Linked DNA regions of Homo sapiens: region 1 is linked to region 2. Evidence: fine-mapped expression QTL. A gene starts in region 2. The other region holds a variant in brackets. All regions are shown on one strand. Distances are between the middles of the regions. Region 1 overlaps DLGAP4 (DLG associated protein 4). Region 2 holds the start of DLGAP4-AS1 (DLGAP4 antisense RNA 1).

The links. PIP is the estimated chance that this variant, and not a neighbour inherited with it, causes the effect.
Region 1: its variant is fine-mapped to the expression of DLGAP4-AS1 in nucleus accumbens (GTEx, PIP 0.99). The same link has a PIP of 0.9 or more in skin.

The regions. Positions count from the first base shown.
Region 1 is chr20:36,450,191-36,461,783 of GRCh38, forward strand. All of the region lies in intron 7 of DLGAP4 (DLG associated protein 4), which reads left to right. Among named protein-coding and RNA genes, the nearest start is that of MYL9, 86 kb to the right of the region's middle. RefSeq lists enhancers at 4,146-4,946, 10,830-11,593 and silencers at 10,737-11,319, 11,025-11,504. The variant C/T (reference allele first, on the strand shown) is at 6,098.
Region 2 is chr20:36,566,802-36,578,394 of GRCh38, forward strand. It overlaps DLGAP4-AS1 (DLGAP4 antisense RNA 1), which reads right to left and starts at 6,474. Exons shown (of 5, transcript NR_109939.1): 1 at 6,111-6,474; 2 at 4,640-4,742. TGIF2 (TGFB induced factor homeobox 2) reads left to right here and starts at 6,796. Exons shown (of 3, transcript NM_021809.7): 1 at 6,796-6,944. TGIF2-RAB5IF (TGIF2-RAB5IF readthrough) reads left to right here and starts at 7,714. Exons shown (of 5, transcript NM_001199535.2): 1 at 7,714-7,834. RefSeq lists enhancers at 4,742-5,294, 5,913-5,972 and silencers at 6,473-6,792, 6,823-6,912, 6,983-7,152.

The DNA of each region.
Region 1 (11,593 bases), 120 kb before region 2:
AGGGAGAGGTAAAGAATCAGGGTCTGGGTGGGCGCAGTGGCTCATGCCTGTAATCCCAGCACTTTGGGAGGCCGAGGCAGGTGGATCACTTGAGGCCAGGAGTTTGAGACCAGCCTGGCCAACATGGCGAAACCCTGTCTCTACTAAAAATACAAAAATTAGCCAGGCGTGGTGGTGCCCACCTGTAATTCCAGCTACTCAGGAGGCTGAGGCAGGAGAATCGCTTAAGCCCGGGAGGTGGAGGTTGCAGTGAGCCAACATCACACTATTGCACTCCAGCCTGGGCAACAAAAGTGAGACTCCGTCTCAAAAAAAAAAGAATCAGGGTCAACAATTCTATGTTCCATGATCCACTGTCTTGGCTGTATTTACTCATGCCCTTCCCAGGTAGAAAACTTTTATTCCCAAGACCCCCAAAAGTCTCATCCAATCATGAGATTGGATCAGACTCTTATGATCTATGTCAGGTCTGGATGTGGCTTCTGTCGAACAATTGACTTTTAATTTTTTAAAGAAACTACTTATCTACCCTACAGTCTAACCCTCCCCAACCACACAGCATACACTGGTGAAACAGGGACAGGAGAACTGCAGTTAATACTCCTGTTCAGAAAAGGGGAAAGTAGAGATGCAGAGACTTATTGATCCATGGCAATTCTGAAGTCCTTCTGAGCAACTGTTGGGCAAATGCGTTGAGATTTGTTGATTAGGTACAAGTTCTCCCTGGGGTTGATCTTCTAGTCTACTGTTCTCCACAGCTCTTGGTTCTGCTCTCTGAAAGCCCTTCCTTCTCCATCAGCATTTTTGGCCACTTTTAAAGAGAACTTGGAGAATATAGCCTTGGGGAACGGAACACCTTTCTTAGCTTGCTTCCTTCCTAAAGAAAGTTAGGGAGCTAGATGTCTTTTGCATCTTGAACGGTCTTACTCCCTTTAGCCTAAGCTGGTCAATTTTACCCATGCACCTACCTCAAACATTTGATGAGTTTTCTATGTATTTGATTCCCTGTAACTTCGAGTGCCAAAAGCCATACCCATAATTGTTTTTGAGTCATGCCTCTCTCTTGACTTGATGCCTACTTTGGGCTTCTGTGGGACCATGCCCTTAAGCTTTCTGTAGGCCCTTTTGACCAGATAGTAGCATCTGCTACCTGGTATCTTGATTGATTGATTGATTGAGACAGAGTCTCGCTCTCTGTCGCCCAGGCTGGAGTGCAGTGGCGCGATCTCAGCTCACTGCAACATCTACCTCCCAGGTTCAAGCGATTCTCATGCCTCAGCCTCCCAAGTAGCTGGGAATACAGGCGTGTGCCACCATGCCTGGCTAATTTTTGTATTTTTAGTAGAGACAAGGTTTCACCATGTTGGCCAGGCTAGTGTCGAACTCCTGACCTCAAGTGATCCACCCGCCTCGGCCTCACAAAGTGCTGGGATTACAGGTGTGAGCCACCACGCCTGGCTCTACTATTTTTAGAGTGTTAATAAGAGATATTATAACCACACTTTGATTTGATCCTGTCCACATACGGCATCTTAACTGGCCATGACCTTGGTTTCATCTTTGCCCTGAGGCTGTATTTTTTTTTTTTTTTTTGAGTTTCGCTCTTGTTGCCCAGGCTGGAGTGCAATGGCGTGATCTCAGTTCATCTCAACCTCCGCCTCCTGGATTCAAGTGATTCTCCTGCCTCAGCCTCCCAAGTAGCTGGGATTACAGGTATGCACCACCATGCCCAGCTAGTTTTGTATTTTTAGTAGAGACAGGGTTTCTCCCTGTAGGTCAGGTTGGTCTCAAACTCCTGACCTCAGGTGATCTGCCTGCCTTGGCCTCCCAAAGTGCTGGAATTACAGGCATGAGCCACCATGCCTAACGAGGCTGTATCTTAATTTGAGAATGGTTTACTCTCTGGAGGGGCTGGAGTTGACAAATTTATTTTCCAACTAAACAAGTTCTGGTCTCCTTCCCTTTCCTCTAAACGCTCCTTGAAGATCGGCTATTTTTTACTTTTTTAGACAGGATCTCCATGTGTCACCCAGGCATGGGTGCAGTGGCATGGTCATAGCTCACCATAGCCTCAACCTCCCAGGCTCAAGCGATCCTCCTGCCTCAGCCTCCCGAGTAGCTGAGACCAGAGTCATGCAGTACCATGCCTGGCTAATTTTTAAATTTCTTGTAGAGATGGGGTCTCCTTATGTTCTACCAGGCTGGTTTTGAACTCCTGGGCTCAAGTGATCCTCCCACCTTGGCCTTCTAAAGTACTGGGATTACAGGTGTGAGCCACGGCACTTGGCCTAGCTATTTCTTTTGAGTTCCTCCTTTTCTTGTAAATCTTTTTTTTTTTTTTTTTAGACAGAGTCTTGCTCTGTTGTCCAGGCTGAAGTGCAGGATCTCAACTCACTGCAATCTCCACTTCCTGAGTTCAAGCCATTCTCCTGCCTTAGCCTCCCAGGTAGATGGGATTACAGGCATATGCCACCACACCCAGCTAACTTTCAAATTTTTAGTAAAGGTGGGGTTTCATCATGTTCGCTACGCTGGTCTTGAACGTCTGACCTCAAGTGATCTGCCCGCCTCGGCCTCCCAAAGTGTTGGGATTACAGGCGTGAGCCACTGCGCTTGGCCTTTTTCTTGTGTAAGTCTTTTTTTTTTTTTTTTTTTTTTTTGAGACAGAGTCTCCCTCTATCACTCAGGCTGGAGTGCAATGGCATGATCTCGGCTCACTGCAACCTCTGCCTCCCAGGTTCAAGCCATTCTCCTGCCTCAGCCTCCCAAGTATCTGGGACTGCAGGCATGCGCCACCATGCCTGGCTAATTTTTGTATTTTTAGTAGAGACGGGGTTTCACCATGTTGGCCAGGCTGGTCTCAAACTCCTGACCTCAAGTGATATGCCTGCCCTGGCCTCCCAAAGTGCTGGGATTACAGGCGTGAGTCACCACGCCTGGCCCCTTTGTCTTGTAAGTCCTTAACAAATGCAGCCAAAAGGAGCAAGCTCAGGCCGGGTACAGTGCTGAGCACGGTGCTATAATCCCAGCACCGTAGGGAGGATCTCTTGAGGCCAGAAGTTCAAGACCAGCCTCAGCAACATAGTGAGACTCCATCTCTACAAAAAATTTTTTTTTAGTTAGCCACTGCACTTCAGCCTGTGTGACAGAGCAAAACCCTGTCTAAAAAGAAACAGAGGCTGGGTGCAGTGGCTCATACCTATAATCCCAATGCTTTGGGAGACCAAGGTGGGAGGATCACTTGAGCCCAGGAGTTCAAGATCAGCCTGGGCAACATAGTGAGAACCTGTCTCTACAAAATAAAAAAAATTAGCTGTGCATGGTGGTCACAGCTACTTGGGAGGCTGAGGTGGGATTTGCTTAAGCCTGGGAGGTCGTGCTGCAGTGAGCCATGATCATGCCACTGTACTCCAGCCTGGGTAACAGAATGAGACTCTGTCTTTAAAAAAAAGAAAAAAGAGGCTGGGCACGGTGGGTCACACCTGTAATCCCAACACTTTGGGAAGCTGAGGTGGGTGGATCACCTGAGGTCAGGAGTTCGAGACCAGCCTGGCCAACATGGTGAAACCCTGTCTCTGCTAAAAATACAAAAATTAGCTGGGCATGGTAGCGGGCACCTATAATCCCAGCTACTCTGGAGGCTGAGGCAGAAGAATCGCTTGAACCCAGGAGGCGGAGGTTGCAGTGAGCCGGGATCGTGCCATTGCACTCCAGACTGGGCGAAAAGAGTGAGACTCTGTCTCCAAAAAAAAAAAAAAAAAAAAAAGAAAGAAAGAAAGAAAAGAAAAAGAAAAAAGAGTCCGGGCACAGTGGCTCACGCCTGTAATCCCAGCATTTTGGGAGGCCGAGGTGGGTGGATCACCTGAGGTCAGGAGTTTGAGACCAGAATGGCCAACATGGCAAAACCCCGTCTCTACTAAAAATACAAAAATTAGCTGGGCGCCTGTAATCCTAGCTACTCGGGAGGCTGAGGCAGGAGAGTCACTTGAACCTGGGAGGCAGAGGTTGCAGTGAGCCAAGATCGCACTATTACACTCCAGCCTGGGCGACAGAGCGAGACTCTGTCTCAAAAAAAAAAAAAAGATAGAAAGAAAGGGCACTCCTTAAGACACTTAACAGCCATCTGTTGAAAAATTGTCATGTCACACTTTTTGTTAGAATAAGGTCCTTTACTTCCATTTGCCAGAAATTTGTCATAATAATTATATAATTAAATTATGTCTATGTGGTGAATGGCTCCCCCCGATATGTAGCATCCTTGATCAGTATAAAACTTGTACAACCATATATGGCGAGCCTGCCCAAAATCACTCCCTCCACAGACAAACACCAGCACACACAGGCACATCCTCACCACTGTACATCCAGCCACTGTCTCCCTACTGGGTCACCCCTGCTCAGAAGGCTGCCCCCTTACTCCTCAGCATCTGTCTCCAAGGAGTGAGCAATCGGGTCCTTTCTCCACCCCCAGGGCTGTTCTGAGCCCCCACGTTGCTGAAGGGCATGAAAGCTCTGTCCTTCTCACAGAGGCATCTGTGCACTCAGGTCCTGTGCAGGCCGGTGGGTTGATGTAGGGGAGCGGCAGTTATTGAGGCAGTGAGAGCCCCTCTCAAGCAGGGCGTGGGCAGGGTGAGGAGCTGCCTGCCTGCCCGCCCACCCACGTGGACCTGGCCAATTCTCCACTGCCAGTGCCACTACTGCTGTCCCTGTTCTCCCTCCCCCTGTCTGACCCAGATTCCACATTCCAGAAATAGCTCTGGCAGGTGACTGGCAGGCGGGGTCAGCTCTAGCTGGGATGGTGGGAGAAGCAGCCGCTATGGATGCGTGCCCCTCCCCAGCCAAAGGACCTATCTAGGAGGGGGCTTGGGGGTGCCATCACTCCCCAGTCTGCCCCCTCCTGCCTCTCTTCTCTCTATGCCTCTGAGAAAAAGAAGAAAGGAGAACAGCCTCCCTCCTCCTCCCTCCCTCCTCTTACTCTGCCATCTCCCTCTCTTTCTTCCAGCTTCCCCTCCCTTCCTCTCCCTCTTTCTCCCCCCACCATCTTTGCCTTCTGTCTGTCTCCCTCAGTTCTCTGCTTCTCCCTCCCACCCTCTCTGCCTTCCTTCCCTCTCAGTTTCTGGCCCTCCTCCCCGTCCTCCCTTTCTGTGTCTCTCCCACTCCCTCTGAATCACAGGGAGGCTGTGATGACAGCCAGTGGCCTGGGCAGGCAAGGTGGTGGGCTGCAGGGTGTACCCCCACTCCTGCCAGCTGCATTCTCTGCACCTGAGTGTGTGCAAGCACACAGGCACACACACTTGGGCTCACTCCCTGACAGTGCTTGTGGCTCTAGGCTGACCTGGGATGGGCTCCAGGCCTGGGAACCACCCTTGCTCCTTGCTCAGGGACCCTGAGTTCTGTGTCACTCTGAGTGGGCACCTGCCCTTCCCTGGGCCTCAAAGTCTCTATCTGTGTTGTGAGGCCTTGGTTTGGGGACCCACAGGTACCTCCCATCTGTGACAATCCAGTCATCAGCTGCTATGCCTGCCCCTCTTTGTCCCATCTTCCATCCCCCAGCTTCTTCTCTGACTGCCCTCCTACCCCTAACCTCCCCCCGGCACCACACACTCTGTATACAGGAAGGGAGGTTGATAAAATTGCAGTACACAGTCAACCCTCCAGTCAACCCTGTCCCCCAACCCTACCCTGGGCCCACCTGTCCCCTCACTCCACCGCAGGCTCTTGTCAGCCCAACGCCTCTAGTCTCCACAGTGTCAGGGCTAAGAGGAAACTCAAAGACCATCATGTCCGGAGATTGCAAATGGACTTCAACCATGTGTCATCTCTGATCCCTGGAGCTCAGTTCTGAGATTTGGTTAAGCAAAGAAAGGTGCCACCATCGATTCGCGATGTCTACCGTAGCCAGAAGAGTTACATACATCTGCAATTCCTGATCTAACCCACTTATCCCAACATGCACGTGCGCACACACAGACATGCACACACATTTACAGATATTTCACAAAGAAACATCAGCCTAGGGAAGATGATTATCTATCAAGGTCAAAGTCAGCCAGCTAGTAGGTCAGGGAGCAGTTTCCTACCTGGGTGTGCCTGACTT[C/T]GAAGCCCTGGGTTCTCCATTGCCCCCTGTGCGTGGGAGCCACCCAGTCCTGGTAAAGCAGTACAAGCATGGGTAATGAAGGTATGTTACAGGAGTTGCAGGGGAAGTCCTCTAGCAACATGGGCAGGATGGATTAGAGGCTGAGAGGCCACTCACAGGTTGGTGCAGTGGTCTAGGTAAGTGACAGTGAGGTCAGGACAGGGGCCATAGGGTCAGAGAATAATGGGAGGACCCAGGAGGCCTTCCCAGAATGAATAATGAGGAACCACAATTCCCTACTGCTGAAACAGGCACCTCTCCACAGAGGACACTGGGCAGAAGGCAGGCTTCCTGTCTGGGGTCCACCAACCCTTGGACTACGACATGCCTGATTAATTGAGTGCCTACTGTGTGCTGAGTATATGGATCCTCACTCTTCCATGTCCTGTTTTTAGCAGATCCACTCAGCCTTCTGGGGGAAATAGTGACCAGGACTGAAGGACTGGTGGGCAGGCCTCCAATCCCAGGATTGAGACTCTTGAGACAAGACAGGGGCATTCTGTATCCCCTCAGGGGGTAGAGAAGTCACCCCAAAGGAAGAGAGATGAAGGTGTTTAAATAGAACCTTGGAGGCCCTACGGCATGGTGGTTAAGCACCTGAGCCTTGCAATCAGGCATCTTTCACTGATAGATGTTTATTGATCAAGTGCTCTGGGCCAGGCTGTGTTGTAGGTACCATCAGTGAGCAAAATGGAAATCCTTGCCTTCATGGAGATTGTATTCTACTGGGAAGGGGAAGGGCAGACAAAACAATAAACATAAATAAGTGTGTGGTTTGTTGGTAGTTGGCACAGCATAAGGGGTCCTGGGAGTGGTGGCAGAGTGCAGGGAGGGGTGCCGAGGTATAAACAGGGTGGCTAGGGTACAGCTCATTGAGAGGGAGATTTTGAGTGAAGACTTTTTTTTTTTTAAGACGGAGTCTCACTCTGTTACCCAGGCTGGCGTGCAGTAGCGAGATCTTGGCTCACTGCAACCTCCGCTTCCCGGGTTCATGTCATTCTCCTGCCTCAGCCTCCTGAGTAGCTGGGACTACAGGCGCTCGCCACCACGCCCGGCTAATTTTTTTTTTTTTTTTTTTTTGAGACAAAGTCTCACTCTTGTCCCCCAGGCTGGAGTGCAATGGCTGCAATGTCCGCCTCCCTGGTTCTGGTTCAAGCGATTCTCCTGCTTCAGCCTCCTGAGTAGCTGGGATTATAGGCACCTGCCACCACACCTGGCTAATTTTTGTATTTTTAGTAGAGACGGGGTTTCACTATGTTGGCCAGGCTGGTCTTGAACTCCTGACCTCAGGTAATCCGCCTGCCTTGGCCTCCCAAAATGCTGGGATTACAGGCATGAGCCACCACGCCCGGCCAATTTTCTGTATTTTTAGTAGAGATGGGGTTTCACCGTGGTAGCCAGGATGGTCCTGATCTCCTGACCTCATGATCCGCACACCTTGGCCTCCCAAAGTGCTGAGATTACAGGCACACCCAGCTAATTTTTGTATTTTTAGTAAAGGGGATTTCACCATGTTGGCCAGGCTGGTCTCGAACTCCTGACCTCAAGCTATCCACCCCACCTCCCAAAGTGCTGGGATTACAGGCATGAGCCACCACACCCGGATTGAGTGAAGACTTGAAGGAAGTGTGGGAATAAGCAGTGCTGGGAAGCGCTCCAGGCGGGGGGTGAGTGGTACAAAGGCCCTGAGGCAGGAGGTGCCTGACAGGCTGGTGGGGGGCAGAGCACTGAGGAGAGAGCCATGGTAAGAGGTGAGGTTCGAGGACAGGGAGGGGAGGGTTGGGTCTGGCCACCGACTGTGGAAACAACTTTGTCTTTTGGCTCTGAGTACAAGGGGGAACCACTGGGGCACTGGAGCACAAGAGTGACATGACCTGGTGTGTGTCTTAAAAGAAACACTCAGACCGGGTGCGGTGGCTCACGCCTGTAATCCCAGCACTTTGGTAGGCCGAGGCAGGCAGATCACCTGAGGTCGGGAGTTTGAGACCAGCCTGGCCAACGTGGTGAAACCCCATATCTTTTTTTTTTTTTTTTTTTTTTTTGAGATGAAGTCTTGCTTCTGTTGCCCAGGCTTGGAGTGCCATGGCGAGGGGTTTCACCATGTTGGTCAGGCTGGTCTTGAACTCCTGACCTCAGGTGATCCACCCGCCTCAGCCTCCCAAAGTGCTGGGATTACAGGCATGAACCACCGTGCCTGGCAAAACCCCTCTCTACTAAAAATACAAAGCCAGGTGTGATGGCACAGATCTGTAATCCCAGCTACTCGGGAGGCTGAGGCATGAGAATCGCTTGAGCCTGGGAGGCAGAGGTTGCAGTGAGCCGAGATTGCGCCACTGCACTCCAGCCTGGCAACAGAATGAGACTCCGTCTCAAAATAAAAAAAAGAAAAGAAAAAGAAAAAAAGACTACTCAGGGGGCTGCATGGAGCCACGTTTGAGGGGCGAGAAGTGGGTGATATGGGAATACCAGGGTGATGATGGTGGCTTAGGCAGGGTGGCAGTGAGGGAGGTGGTGACAACTCACTGGATCCTGGAAGGGCTCTGAAAGTGGAGTCAACAGGATTCTTTGGTGGATTGGATGTGGGTGAGAGTGAAGGAGAACAGCTAAGGGGTGATGAGAAGGAATGGTTACACAGCCAGGTCGCGTGGGGACAGCCCTCACTCCTCTAACTGCCAGTTCTGGCACCTGAGACAGGACAGTGACTATCTGGGAAGTTGGGAGAGGAGCATCTTCACCCCCCGGATGGGGAGCCTTGGGGTCCAGGCTGGGGATTAGGGAGGGGGAGCATGTGAGTCCTGTCTGTGCCCCATCTCAGGCTGTGGTCCAGCCAACTCTGCCTTGTAGGGATTCCAGCCAGACTGGGGAGCTCTTAGGGGAAGGACCCAGTACTGGAGTACAGTAGATGTTCCATAAATATCTTCTGGGACCCTAAAGCATCACCATCAGAAGGGACTGTTAAAATCTCCTAGCCCAAGGGTCTCAAATTTGGTAAAATACAAACACTGTTTGACACTGCCTGAGTTCTGTCCCAGGAATCTGCTTTTCTTTTTTGTTATTTTTTTATTTTGGAGACAGTGTCTCACTCTGTCACCCAAATTGGAGTGCCGTGGCAGGATCACAGCTCACTACAGCTTTGACCTCCTGGGCCCAAGCAATCCTCCCATCTCAGCTTCCTGAGTAGCTGAGGAGCCACAGGCACATGCCACCACACCCAGCTAATTTTTTAATTTTTGTGGAGGCAGGGTCTCCCTATGTTGCCCAGGCTGGTCTTTTTTTAATTAATTAATTAATTTTTTTTGAAACGGAGTTTCGCTCTTGTTGCCCAGGCTGGAGTGCAATGGCGCAATCTTGGCTCACCGCAACCTCCGCTTCCCAGGTTCAAGCGATTCACCTGCCTCAGCCTCTCAAGTAGCTGAGATTACAGACATGTGCCTCCATGCCCGGCTAATTTTGTATTTTTAGTAGAGACGGGATTTCTCCATATTGGTCAGGCTGGTCTTGAACTCCTGACCTCAGGTGATCCTCCCGCCTTGGCCTCCCAAAGTGCTGGGATTACAGGCGTGAGCCACCACACTCGGCCCAGAATCTGCTTTTCAGTTGGTGCCCCCAGTGATCTCTCTTCAGGGTGTCAATCACGGTCCACAGTTTGAAAAATCTTGCCTTGGTCCAGTTTCTCTCCAGGAAACAGATAGGGCTGGTGAGTCCCAGAGAGGGAAAGGGACTTGTTCAAGGTCACACAGGGAGTGTGTTATTAAATTTGGGAGGGTGGAAGTGGAATAATGATATTTCATCTTATGCTGTGTGTGCTGCCTTGGGTTGTCAGGGCCCATAACAAATGTACCTTGTTTTTTTCCTAAGTAAATCAACCTTGGCTCACGCCTGTAATCTCAACACTTTGGGAGGCCGAGGTGGGAGGATCGCTTGAGCCCAGGAGTTCAAGACCAGCCTGAGCAACAGAGACCTTGTCGCTACAAAAAATAAAAATAACCAACTTAAAGTGAATAGTACAGGCGTAGCATAAGTGACTGAGATAGGATGACCTTCAAAGTGCTTAGCACAGTGCCTGGATTCAAAACGGTTGGCTAACCCTCAATTCCGTTTATTATTTTTACACCTTAATGCAAAAACCATGACAGTGGTATTGGAAACACTATCATCTTCGCCAGTGCTCAAAATATTTTGATATGTCAAAAATTCTTTTCTCCATTTTTTGGAAAACAGATGCGAGAAAGGAAAGGACTTGCCTAGGTCACCCAGCAAGGCAGGTCATGAACAAGAGTTGGGTCTGCGTCTGGCAGACCTACCACAGGTGCGGCCTGGAGAGATGAGGCCCACAAGGCAGCGACAGGACCTGGATTCAGTGAGGAGAGGGGACTCGCGGGGTAGAAGCCAGGAACTGGGAAGGCGAGGAGGCGTGAAGGCACCACCTACTGCCAACCCGGCTCGAGCTGGTCACTTTGCCCTCCATGAGATCGTAGGTGTGCTTGTTGTTTTATTTTACGGGGGAGGAATGGAAGGCTCAGGGAAGTTGAATGCGGATGTTGTTCAAGATCACACAGGCCTCCAGAGGCGGAGCCGGGATTGGAACCCAATCTCTAGGACTCTGGGTTAGCAAAGCAAAGGGAGGATGCAGTGGCGAGGACAGCTAGATACACCTAGGGCGCAGAGCAGCCAGGACCAGAGGGCCAATCTGACTATGCAGGGGTGAGAGGGCCACCTCGGGCAGCTTCCTCGGAGCCTCGGTTCCCCCCTTACAGCGAGGTGTCGCTGGGGTGAACTGGTGGGAACTCCCGCCTCGGTCCACCTCCCGCACAGAGCATGCGTCGCGTTCCAGCTGGAACCGGTTTGGCGAGGCGGTTCGAGGGGCGGCGACCCCACCCCCACCCCCCCATGCTCGGGCATGCGCGTGCCGACGTGGGCGCGCGCTCCTTTCCTGGGCCGGCCGGCTGGGCGTGGGCCGGACGCGGCGGCCCGCGCGCCTGCCGACCAGCCCGGCTGCGCGCGCCGGGCCACATGCCAAGCGGGCTGCGCGCGCCCCTGCCCGGCCCGGGAGTCCCTGACGACGCGCGCGCGGCTGACGCGGGGGGCGGGGAGGGGCGGGGCAGGTGCGGGACTTTAACCCGGAGCCCCGCCCCTCGGGCGTACAAAACCGGAGCCTCGGGCCGGGCTGCGTGAGGGAGGAGGGTGAGTGCCCGCCGCTGGCCGCCGCCGCCGCCGCCAGTCCGTCCGTCTGTCCGGTCCACGTCGTCGCTGCCGCCTCCTCAGCCCGGACGCCCGGGGCCCGCCCAGCGCCGCCCGGAGCAGCCGCGGCCCCGCGAGGAGACGGGGGCCGCCCCGCCCGGCCCGGCCCGGCCCTGCCCCGCCCCCGCCCTCGCCCTCCTCCTCCTCCTCCTCCTCCCCGTCTGTCCGTCCGTCCGTCCGTCCGCCCGCCCGCCCGCCCGCCCGCGCTTCCGTCCT
Region 2 (11,593 bases):
ATAGAGAACAGAAAAACAATAGAGAAAATTGATAAAACCAAAAGTTGGTTCTTTGAAAAAAGTCAAAGCAACTGACAAACCCTCAGCTAGACTGACCAAGAAAAAAAGAAAAAAGACTTGAAATTACTAGAGTCAGAAATGGAGACGATAATATTACCATTAACCTTTCAGGAATAAAATCCTACCTCCTCCAATGACCAGTTTTATAACCTCAGGTGTTACTTAGCCCCTCTGTGCCTCCCTTATCTCTATTCTTTAATCCCAACACTTTGGGAGGCCGAGGCAGGTGGATCACTTGAGCTCAGGAGTTCAAGACCAGCTTGGGCAACACAGCGAAACCATGTCTCTACTAAAAATGCAAAAATTAGCTAGGTGTGGTGGCGGGCGCCTGTAATCTCAGCTACTTGGGAGGCTGAGACATGAGAATCACGGGAACCTGAGAGGCGGATGTTGCAGTGAGCAGAGATTGCACCACAGCGAGACTCTGTCTCAGAAAAAGAAAAAAGAAAAAAAAGCAGTGGACTCCTAGATCCTATGAAGGCTGCAACCTAGACCCGACAAGAGATCAGAAATTTATTATCCAAAGAATACAGAAGGTCCTGGACAGATGAACACCAGGCACAGGAGAGGAGAAGACAGCAACAACAGAAGGGTTACACAGAAATTCATGTACTCAGTGTTGAGGATATCCAGACCCTTAGTCTTCCTCCACTCAGCTTGGGAACACTGTCAGCAAGGCACAGAGCCCACTCAGGCCTTCATGCCGCACTAGCTCCCAGGGCCCCAGACCTTCTAGTACAATGGAAAAATGAGACTGTCAAGGCATAGCTCTCATCAAAGAAATTCCAGGCCAGGCACAGTGGCTCACACCTGTAATCCCAACATTTTGGGAGGCCAAGGCAGGCGGATCACCTGAGGTCAGGAATTTGAAACCAGGCTGGGCAACATGGTGGAACGCCATCTCTACTAAAAATACAGAAATTGGCCGGGTGCAGTGGCTCACGCCTGTAATCCCAACACTTCGGGAGGCCGAGGTGGGCAGATCACTTGAGGTCAGGAGTTCGAGACCAGCCTGGCTAACATGGTGAAACCCCATCTCTACTAAAAATACGAAAAATTAGCTGGGCGTGGTAGCCTGCGCCTATAATCCCAGCTACTCGGGAGGCTGAGGCAGGAGAATCGCCTAAACCGGGAGGCAGAGGTTGTGGTGAGTCAAGATCATGCCTCTATACTCCAGCCTGGGCGACAGAGCAAGACTCCGTCTCAAAAAAAAAAAAAAAAAGAAAAAAAAAAGCCTACTGAAGCCTGATAGCTTCCAACTTTTCTTCAGCAGCTTCCTCAGCTCTCTCAGCCTTCAGAGAATTGAAGACAGTTAGGGCTTATGCTCTGGATTAGGCTTTGGTTTAAGGGAACGTTGTCGCTGGTCTGATCATCTATCTAGACCACTCAAATTTTCTCCATATCAGCAATAAGGCTGTTCCCTTTCTTATTACTGTGTTCACTGAAATAGCACCTTTTTCTTTATTTATTTTTGTATTTTTTTTTTCTTTTTAGTACAGATGGGCTTTCACCATGTTGGCCAGGGTGGTCTCGAACTCCTGACCTCAAGTGATCCCACCTGCCTTGGCCTCCCAAAGTGCTCAGGTTACAGGCATGAGCCACTGCGCCTGGCCAATTTTTGAGACAGGGTCTCACTCTTTCACGCAGGCTGGAGTACAGTGGCACAATTATACCTCACCACAGCCTCAACCTCCTGGGCTCAAGCCTTCCTCCACCTCAGCCTCCCAAGTAGCTGGGACTACAGGCATTCGCCACCATGCCCAGCTGATTATTTTTTGTTGAGAGGGGGTCTTGCTATGTTGCTCAGGCTGGCCTCAAACTCCTGGGTTCAAGAGACCTTCCCCTGCCTCGGCCTCCCGAAGTGTTGGGATTACAGGCATGAGCCACCAGACCTAGCCAGATAGTTTTTGTTTGTTTGTTTTGAGACAGAGTCTTGCTCTGTCGCCCAGGCTGGAGTGCAGTGGCGTGATCTCAGTTCACTGCAACCTCTGCCTCCCAGATTCAAGCAATTCTCCCGCCTCAGCCTCCCCAGTAGCTGGGATTACAGGTGTGAGCCACCGCGCCCAGCCAATTGTTCTTGAGTGAAATTAAAAGTGCTACTCCAGAGGCGGGGCATGGTGGCTCACAACTTTAATCCCAACACTTGGGACGGCTGAGGCAGGAGGATCACTTGAGCCCAGGAGTTGGAGGCCAGCCTGGACAACATAGCGTGACCTCGTCTCTACTAAAAACTAAAAAAACAAAAAAAAGGCCTATCTTGGCTTTCAACATGCCTTTCTCACTGAGCTTAATTATTTCTAGCTCTTGATGTGAAGTGAGAGATTTGCAACTCTTCCTTACACTTGAACACTTAGAGGCCACTGTACGATTACTAATTGCAAACAGCTGGTTGGTGGAGCGGTCAGAACACATACAATATTGATGGAGTAAGTTTACCGTCTTACACAAGCATCATTCATGATGCCCCAAAACAATTACAATAGTAACATCAAAGATTATTGATCGCAGATCACCATACTAGATATAATAATAACAAACTTTGAAATATTTCAAGAATTACCAAAATGTGGCACAGAGACACATACTGAGCATCCTTTTGGAAAAATAATGCTGGTAGACTTTGCTCGACACAGGGTTGCCAAAAGCCCTCAATTTGAAAAAAACGCAGTACCTGCAAAGCGCAAAAAAGCAAGGCACAATGAAACAAGGGGTGTGCCTGTTTTCTTTGACTCTCACCGAAGCCTTGTGTTTCCACAACATGAGAAAAGGGAGGTTCAGAAGGTGTGGATGATTTTCCTAAATCACCTGGCTAGTAACCAAGTCCCAGGGCCACAGCCTTCCCACCGCAAGGCACTGTCGCCCAAAGCCTTCAGGAGTAAGCTTGGCTGTAGGTTTTCCAGCCATAGGCACACAGCCAGACACAGGTGGGCACTCAGAAATTAGTTACGTGAGTAAATACCCAACAACTAGGAGAAAGCTAGGCAAATTGTGGTTGACCAACAAGACACTGCAAGACTTTTCAGGAGGAAGATGTGGAATTCCACTTATCAACATTAGATGAAAATGCAGAACCTCACATAACAGCCACAAATCTCCCTAGATCTCAGAGGCGGGTCTCCATCCGCTCGGCCTCAATTATCCAGAGCTGAGTCACCAACTATCCTCCCTCCAGTCTCTCCCCAGCTCTCCGCAGGAACCAGCTGGAGCTCTCTACTGCCCACACTGCCAAATCCAAATTCTTCATCCTGGCCTTCACAGCCCTTCCATCTCAACCAATCCAGTTGTTTCCTGAACACTTTCACCCTCCCTGGCCTTTGTTGGACTCTTCCCTCTACCCCACAGAAGCCCATCTTCTCCTTTATCCTGAGATGCAACTTGGCTCATATGGATTCTCAGTGAATGCTGGTGCCTTTCCCCACTTCCATCAAAAAGGGAGCGGTGGCCAGGTGTGGTGGCTCACACCTGTAATCTCAGTACTTTGGGAGGCCAAGGCAGGTAGATCACCTGAGGTCAGGAGTTCAAAACCAGCCTGGCCAACATGGCGAAACCCCGTCTCTACTGAAAATACAAAATTAGCCGGGCGTGGTGGTGCATGCCTGTAATCCCAGATACTCAGGAGGCTGAGGCAGGAGAATCACTTGAACCTGGCAGGCGGAGGTTGTAGTGAGCCGAGATCTCGCCACTGCACTCTAGCCTGGGCAACAAGAGCGAAACTCTGTCTCAAAAAAAAAAAGGAAGCGGCTCACTTTTTTTTTTTTTTAACAAAAGTGGATTTATTCATTTAAACCTATGTGATCACCAAGTTCACTAGAAACTGGCAGGATGAACCTGGAGCCTCACATCCAAGAGCCTCCGGTTTGGGTTTTTCTGGTACGGAGGCAGGGAACTGACTTAGATGACCTGGGCAGCCAGGCTGGTCTGGGCTTGGATGCCTTTCCACCTCTCCTTCCTCTCCTAGTCTATCCCCAGCTCCCTTCCAGGGGTCAGGACCCCAAACTCCTATTAGGCAAGTCTTTTCTTCCCTTAGCAACCCAGTTTCTTCAAACATGGGGAAAAAAGGTAGGAGGAGCTTCTTATCACAATATTTCTTTTTAATTTAGAAAGAGGAGGAGAAAGCTAGGCTCACACCTGTAATCTTAACACTTTGGGAGGTTGAGGCGGTGGATCACTTGAGGTCAGGAGTTCAAGATCAGCCTGGCCAACATGGCAAAACTCAAGTCTCTACTAAAAACACAAAAATTAGCTGGGCACGGTGGTGGGCGTGGGCGCCTTTAGTCCCAGCTACTCAGGAGGCTGAGGCAGGAGAATCGCTTGCAGCTGGGAGGTGGAGGTTGCAGTGAGCTGAGATCGCATCACTGCACTCCAGCCTGGGCGACAGAACGAGACTCTGTCTCAAAAAAAAAAAAAAAAAGAAAAAAGAAAGTAGGGGAGAGAAAAATGACAATAACTTATCACTTGGAAAAAGTTTTCCCACTAAAGTTCTCACCAACTATGTCCAAAGTCCCTCCTTGTTGGGACACTGTAAGCTGTCAATAAATATACCTTGGTCATGCCCCTACATTAGCGCGCACCAACTTACCCCATTTTAAGAGCCTGCGGTAGAGAGGTCTCAGAGTTGCTATAATGGGCCAGCTCCTGGTGAGGGGTATTTAGTTGTTTGCAATTTTCCCGAATGAACAGTTCTGCAAAGAACAATCTTCTATAAGCATTTATCTTTGTTGTACAGCTACTTCAAAAGACAGATTCCTAGAAGTGGAATTACTGTCTTAGAGAATCTACACATTTTAAATTCTGATACTTACTAGTTCAGAAACTTGACACGGTAATTCTCAAACTCTAATTGCACTTAGGCTTTATCTGTGAAGCTTGCTTACGTGCAAAATCTGACCGGCTACCAGCCTCCCTCCACCACTACCCCGTCCTCCAGGAGAGAGGAGGGGCTCCAGGTCTTTGTTATGCAGCTCTCAGGTGGAGGAGGAGGCAGCACTCCCCCGCTTCCATTTTCCCAACCACATCTAGCACCAGACTTGGGAAACACTCGTCTAAGGGGCTGCTGCAGGCACAATTTACGGTGCGGTCTCTTCCTCTAGCCCAGGCCCCCAGTGGCTTCCCCAGAAAGGGCAGAATGTGGCTCTTACGCATACAGGAGAAAAACGCCTAGTGCGGAGTTCAAGCTCAGCAGCCACTACCAGAGCCCCCTCTCCAGGCTCACCTGGTCGCACCCATTTCCCCCTGGGGCTCCCCTCTTCTGAAGGTCCCTGTCCCATACATTTCCTAGAGGCCAAGGCCCATTGGTTTTACATTTCTTACCTAAGGCAACCCAGACGTGGCTTTTTCTTTCACAGGGCCGTGGGGGGAGCACCACTTCCCCGGCCAAAAAAATTGTTTCTGACCCACACTCTGGGCCTTATTTTCCCTGTCTGTGAAATGGAGAGCAACAGGCAGTGCCACTGACATTTCACCCGCTGCCGTGAGGAGGTTTTTAACATTTGCAGGAAGTCTGGCTTCTATGGGGTGTCCAGGTGAAACCTTAACAATCTTTAATCAGCATTCTGATTGGCTTAAGGCTTGTTTGGAAAAAATTAAGAGTTTTGTTCCTAGAGTTCTCCATTGCTAAAGGGTAATTAAGTCCAAAAGCTGTTTTCAAAGCGATTTCCAAGCTCAAGGGCCCTAGATATCTGGACCTAGCCGTGTCCGGGTACAGGGCTGGGGGGCGTGGGGGGATGCCCTAAGAGGCTGGTTAACAGAAATATCACAGTATGTGGTACCCACAGCAGAGAGCAGGGAAGAATGTACTGACTGGGGTGGGGGAGGCCAAGGAAAACCTTCTGGAGTAGGGTGTAACTGGCAGAAGAGGAAAAAGAAACCAGACAGGAACTCCGGGAGCTCCTGGACTGATCGTTTAAGGCCGGGCACAAGGGGTAAGGGATCAGGCTTCACTATCGACCGACCTGGGCTGAATGATACCGGTTGACTGTGTGACAAAAGCAAATCAAGAACCTCTCTGCGGCTCATGAGTAAGCCAGAGACTTACATAGGACAACACATACCCTATCACCCGAGGATGAGACGGGATGACACACACGAAGTGCCCCGCACAGCGTCGTTGTAAAGCGTTGGCTGTTTTCACCTCTGGCCGCCCCCTGTGAGCCCGATCATGTGCTTTTTGGGCTTAGGTCGGAGGCGGCCTCCCAGATTCTACAGGCCATTGAGGTCGTAACAAGCGTCTCCATCAGAGCCTAGTCCTTAACTAGCTGCGGGTAAGTGCCCGGACTAAGTGGCCTCAGTTTCCCCTCGAAGCAACGGGACCAATCGCACCGCCGGCAGGACATCTTGTGCGGGGCGCGAAGTGACAAAAGTCAGGATTTGCAGAAGTTCCCACTCGGTAACGACCCCCACCCCGGCAAGGAGCACAGTAGGCGCTCCGGAAACGCCCTCCACGAGGAGGGCCGGGCCACTTCCTGCCCCCGAGCGGGCTCTCCCCGGCGGAGGCTCCCACCGCCGCTATGGGTAGGCCATGCAGCATTCCTGAGGGCGGGGTGGGCGCAGGAAGAAGGTGCCCGCGGCCCCGCCCCCTCCGGGCGCGCTGGGCGGGGCGAAGCCCCTCGGCGCCGACGGCCCGCCCCGCGGGGGGTGGGCGCAGCTCGTCGCGCTCCGCACAAAGTTTGTTTTCTCCCTCCGGGCGGGTGGGGGAGGGCGCAGAGGGCGCGGGGGGAGGAGAGGGGATCTGACGTCAGGCCGCGAGGTGCTTTCCAGCCGCGAGCTGTCAGGCCGAGTGTCAGGCCGGGCAGGTACGCGGCGCGCGCCCCCGGCGCCCCCCGCTCCCCGCCGGGACGCCCCGCGCCGAGCCGGAGGCCGCGTGGACCCGAAAGCCGCTGGGAAAAGTCAGTGCAGGGAGCAGCAGAGGGCCAGATGGGGGTGGGGGCGCGCGGACAACTTGGAAAGTTTCTTTTTCTCGGCCGGACGGGGAGGGGGCGTCGTCCTGGCGCGTGCGGTAGGGGGTGTGTGAGCTCGGGGGTGTTTGTGAGTCCCGACGGCCCCCGGGGGGTGTTTGTGAGTCCCGACGGCGCTGCGCTCCGGGGGCCGGTGGGGGACTGTTCCAGCCCCCGGGAGGAAGCCCGCTTGGGGCCCTGGTGGGGGGCCCAGCTTCATAGGATCCCACCCCAGGAGAGGGCCGATCCTGCACCGGACCTGAGTGAGCGCGCGGGGGGACGGATTTGTTTGGTTTCAAAAGTGCACGTTGCTAACCGCCAGCAGGGCCCCCCCGCCGCCGAGCCGGACAGGGGGCGGCCGAGAGTGACAGCTGGGGGTGGGGGCCGCGGGAAGGGCCCGGAGCGGGGGGGCCCTGGGGAGCCCGCGCGAGTTCCCCTTTCCTTTGGAACAAAGGAAAGTCTGTCTCCGAGGCATCTGTCACTCCCAGGCTGGCCAAGGAAGCGGGGCGCGTGGGGCCGGCGCCCCGGAGAAAGTTTGTTCGCGCCGGGACCCTCGGGCAGGCCGAAGGTGATCCAAGCCTCCCGCGGGAGAAGCGCGTAGTCTCCGGGGCAGGGGGCGGCCAACATGGAGTCTGGGCGCAGGGCTGGGGGGGGGGGGGCGGCGCGGAGGTGGGAGCCCAGCCCCCTCCCCTCCCTTCCCCTCCCCTCCCCCTCCGGGCCCAGTTCGGAGCACAAAGCCGAGCGCGCACGCTCCGCCGTCCCCGCGCCCCGAAGAGTCGGCCAGCCCCGAACTGCCGGAGTAGGGGTGGGAACCAAACTTTTTCCTGCCCCGGGACAGACACGTGAGTTTTCTTTCTTCCAGAGCCCCCGTCCCACCGGGATGGCGGGCCCGCGCGGGAGCTGGTGCGCGGAGTCGGCCCGGGGTGTGGGGACTGTGGGGTGCAAGCGCCCCGAGCGCCGGACGATTCCTCGCCGACCCAGGAGCCATGTGCTCCGACTCGGTCTGGGCCGCGGGGGAGGTTGCGCGCTTTGTCTGAACTGCTGGGAATGCGGGCGTGAGTGCGCGGCCCGGGGGAGTGTCGGGACCAGCTAGGGGAGTTGTCAGAAAGTTCGTGCGGGAGTGGCTGCAGGTGGCGTCGTGGGAGTCTGTAGGAGGGTGTACGGGATGTTGTGTCGAGGGGTTGCTGCCACAGGTCACTGAGGGTAGAACTGATTGTTAGTGTGATGACGCCTGGAGTTTTCCCTGTCGGAGAGATCGGGGGTGGCCGGGTCGGTTGGAGTTCGTGGGTGGGCGGGTACAGAAGTTGGGCTAGTTGTGTGGGTCACAGTTGTTCGTGCTAGGCCTGGGGTCTGTAAGCTGTGCGTGTGCGTGCTGTATGCGTCGGTGAAAACCCTAGGGTTTGTAAGGCTTGAGCGATGGGTCCGGGCCAGTTATCCTAGCGCTGTTGGTTAATTGCCTGGCGTGAGTGTGTCTGGGTGCGGTGTGGGGTGCATATGTGGGAAGCCTCCCAGACTACAGATGGCCCTGTGTGGCGGAACACCGAGGTGGAGAAGTTTGTGTAGACTGAGGGGTCATTCCCCAGGGCCCACCCGGGGAACCCTGCAGACAGACTTGGCTGGCAGCCAGGGTGGAATTTGTACAGATAACCTTGAGTACTTCTCACAGCCGGCCAGGGCTGCATCACTGAGCCCAGATCCCAGCTGCCCTGGCCACCTAGAAATGGCTGTCTGACCTCAGAAAGCAGCCTGCAGTGGTGCTCTCTGAGGAGTGGCACGTCTAACCAGTGCCTGTCTCACCTCCAGGTGGCCTGACTGAAAGGGTAGACCCTTCCCTCGAAAGCCTGGCCTAGCCAGCCCAGAGATCTGGGCTCGGGTCCAAGAAGAGGAAACAAAACCTGGGAGATGCCAGAGTCTGTTGGCCGGCCTGCTGGGGAGCTGTTAAAAGGCTGAGAAGGGAGGAGCCTTGAGATCCTGGCATCAGCCTGGCCTAGAACTTTTGCTTTTAAAATGAAAATCTGGCTGGGCGGGGTGGCTCACACCTGTAATCCCAGATCTTTGGGAGGCCGAGGCGGGCAGATCACCTGAGGTCAGGAGTTCAAGACTAGCCTGGCCAACATGGCAAAACCCTGTCTCTACTAAAAAAAAAAAAATAGCTAGATGTGGTGGCACACACCTGTAATCCCAGCTGTTCGGGAGGCTGAGGCAGGAGAATTGCTTGAACCTGGGAGATGGAGATTGCAGTGAGCCAAGATTGCGCCACTGCACTCCAGCCTAGGCTACAGAGCGAGACTCCATCTCAAAAAAAAAAAAAGAAAGAAAGAAAGAAAGAAAATCTTTGTTGCACGTGTGAAACAGAACTTTGTCCAGGGACTGAGCAGCTGAGTTGGGTTATCTAGGGAAAATCCTTCCTTCATTTGACAGGTGAAGAGGGGACTCAAGCCCAGAAAGGGGAGGATCCTTGTCCAAGTTACAGTGCCAAGTGGAGGGTGGGCCTTGCTCATTCACCTGGATTTTGAGTGGTTGAGTCTAGGACCAGGCTAAAGGGGCCTGACAAAGGAGAATGTCCAAGAAGCAACCAGTAGAGAGATGACTCACCTCTCTCACTGCAAGGTACACAGTAGGTGCTCCTTAAATATTACTTGGACTGCTGCAGGATCATGGTGATCTGTAGTTTCCAGAGTTCTCACTGGCCCTTGGGAGACCTAGGAGGCAAGACAGTATACAGCTCACAAGAGGGGGTGGGGAGAGGCCTGGTCCAAATCCGACTTCACTATCCTAACCTGGGGGTGGGATTTTTTTCCTTTACAGCTTTATTGAGATATAACTCACATACCATGCAATTCACCCATTAAAGTATACTCATCAGCAGGTTTGGTATGTTTGCAACCATCACTATAGTCAATTTTAGGACTTTTTTGCGGGGGGATAGGGGGACAGGGTCTTGCTCTGCCTCTCAGATGGGAGGGCAGTAGTGTGATCTCATCTCATTGCAACCTCTGCCTCCGGGCTCAAGCGATTCTTCCACCTCAGCCCCCAGAGTAGCTGGGACCACAGACATGCATTACCGTGCTCAACTAATTTTTGTATTTTTTGTAGAGATGGGGTTTCACCGTGTTGCCCAGGCTGGTCTTGAACTACTGAGCTCAAGCGATCCACCTGCCTTGGCCTCCCAAAGTGCCAGGAGTATAGGTGTGAGCCACAGCACGTGGCATTTTTTTTTTATTATTTTATTTTTGAAAACAGGTTTTTAATTATGTCGTCCAGGTTGACATGCACTGGTGCGATCATAGCTCACTACAGCCTTGAACTCCTGGGTTCAAGGGATCCTCTCACCTCAGCCTCTCAGAATAGCTGGGACTACTGGCACACCATCACACTGGGCTAATTTTTATTTTATTTTATTTTTTTATTTTTTTCTTTTGTTGAGACAGGGAATCACTCTGTCACCCAGGCTGGAGTGCAATGCCATGATCTCAGCTCACTGCAACCTCTGCCTTCTAGGTTCAAGCAGTTCTCCTGCCTCAGCCTCCCAAGTAGCTGGGATTACAGGTGTGTGCCACCACACCTAGCTAATTTTTTTTTTTTTTTGGTATTTTTAGTAGAGACGGGGTTTTGCCATGTTGGCCAGGCTGGTCTCGAACTCCTGACCTCAGGTGAGCCACCCACCTCGGCCTCCCAAAGTGCTGGGATTACGAGCGTGAGCCACCGTGTCCGGCCTTTGTTTGTTTTTGTTTTTTTTTTTTTGAGATGGAGTCTCGCTGTGTCACTAGGCTGGAGTGCGGTGGCACGATTTCGGCTCACTGCAACGTCCACCTCCCAGGTTCAAGCAATTCTGCCTCAGCCTCCCGAGTAGCTGGGACTACAGGCACGCGCCACCATGCCCAGCTAATTTTTGTATTTTTAGTAGAAACAGGGTTTCACCCTGTTGGCCAGGATGGTCTCAATCTCTTGACCTCGTGATCTGCCTGCCTCGGCCTCCCAAAGTGCTAGGATTACAGGCATGAGCCACTGTGCCCGGCCTTTGTTTTTTGAGACCTTTTTTATTTTGTTGTCACCCAGGCTGAAGTGCAGTGGCACAAACACAGTTCACTACAGCCTTGACCTCCTGGGCTCAAGCAATTCTGCCTCAGTCCCACAAGTAGGTGGGCTTACAAATGCACAGCATGACACCTGGCTTATTTTTGTATTTTGTGTGTGTGTGTGTGAGCCACTGCGCAGGCCTTGGGCAGCTTTCTTGATCTCTGTTACCTCATCTATAAAATGATGATAATAATAGCTTCTCCCTTATTGGGGAATTGTAATGATTAAATGAGATAACATGTAAAATGCTCAGTACAGGCCAGGCATGGTGGCTCACGCTTGCAATCCCAGCACTTTGGGAGGCTGAGGCTGCTAGATCTCTTGAGGCCAGCAGTTAAGACCAGCCTGGCCAATATGGTGAAACCCTGTGTCTACCAAAAAATACAGAAAGTCAGCCAGGCATGGTGGTGCATGCCTGTAATCCCAGCTACTCAGAGGCTGAGGTGGGAGAATCACTTGAACCCAGGAGACAGAAGTTGAAGTGAGCCAAGATGGCGCCACTGCACTCTAGCATGGGCTAC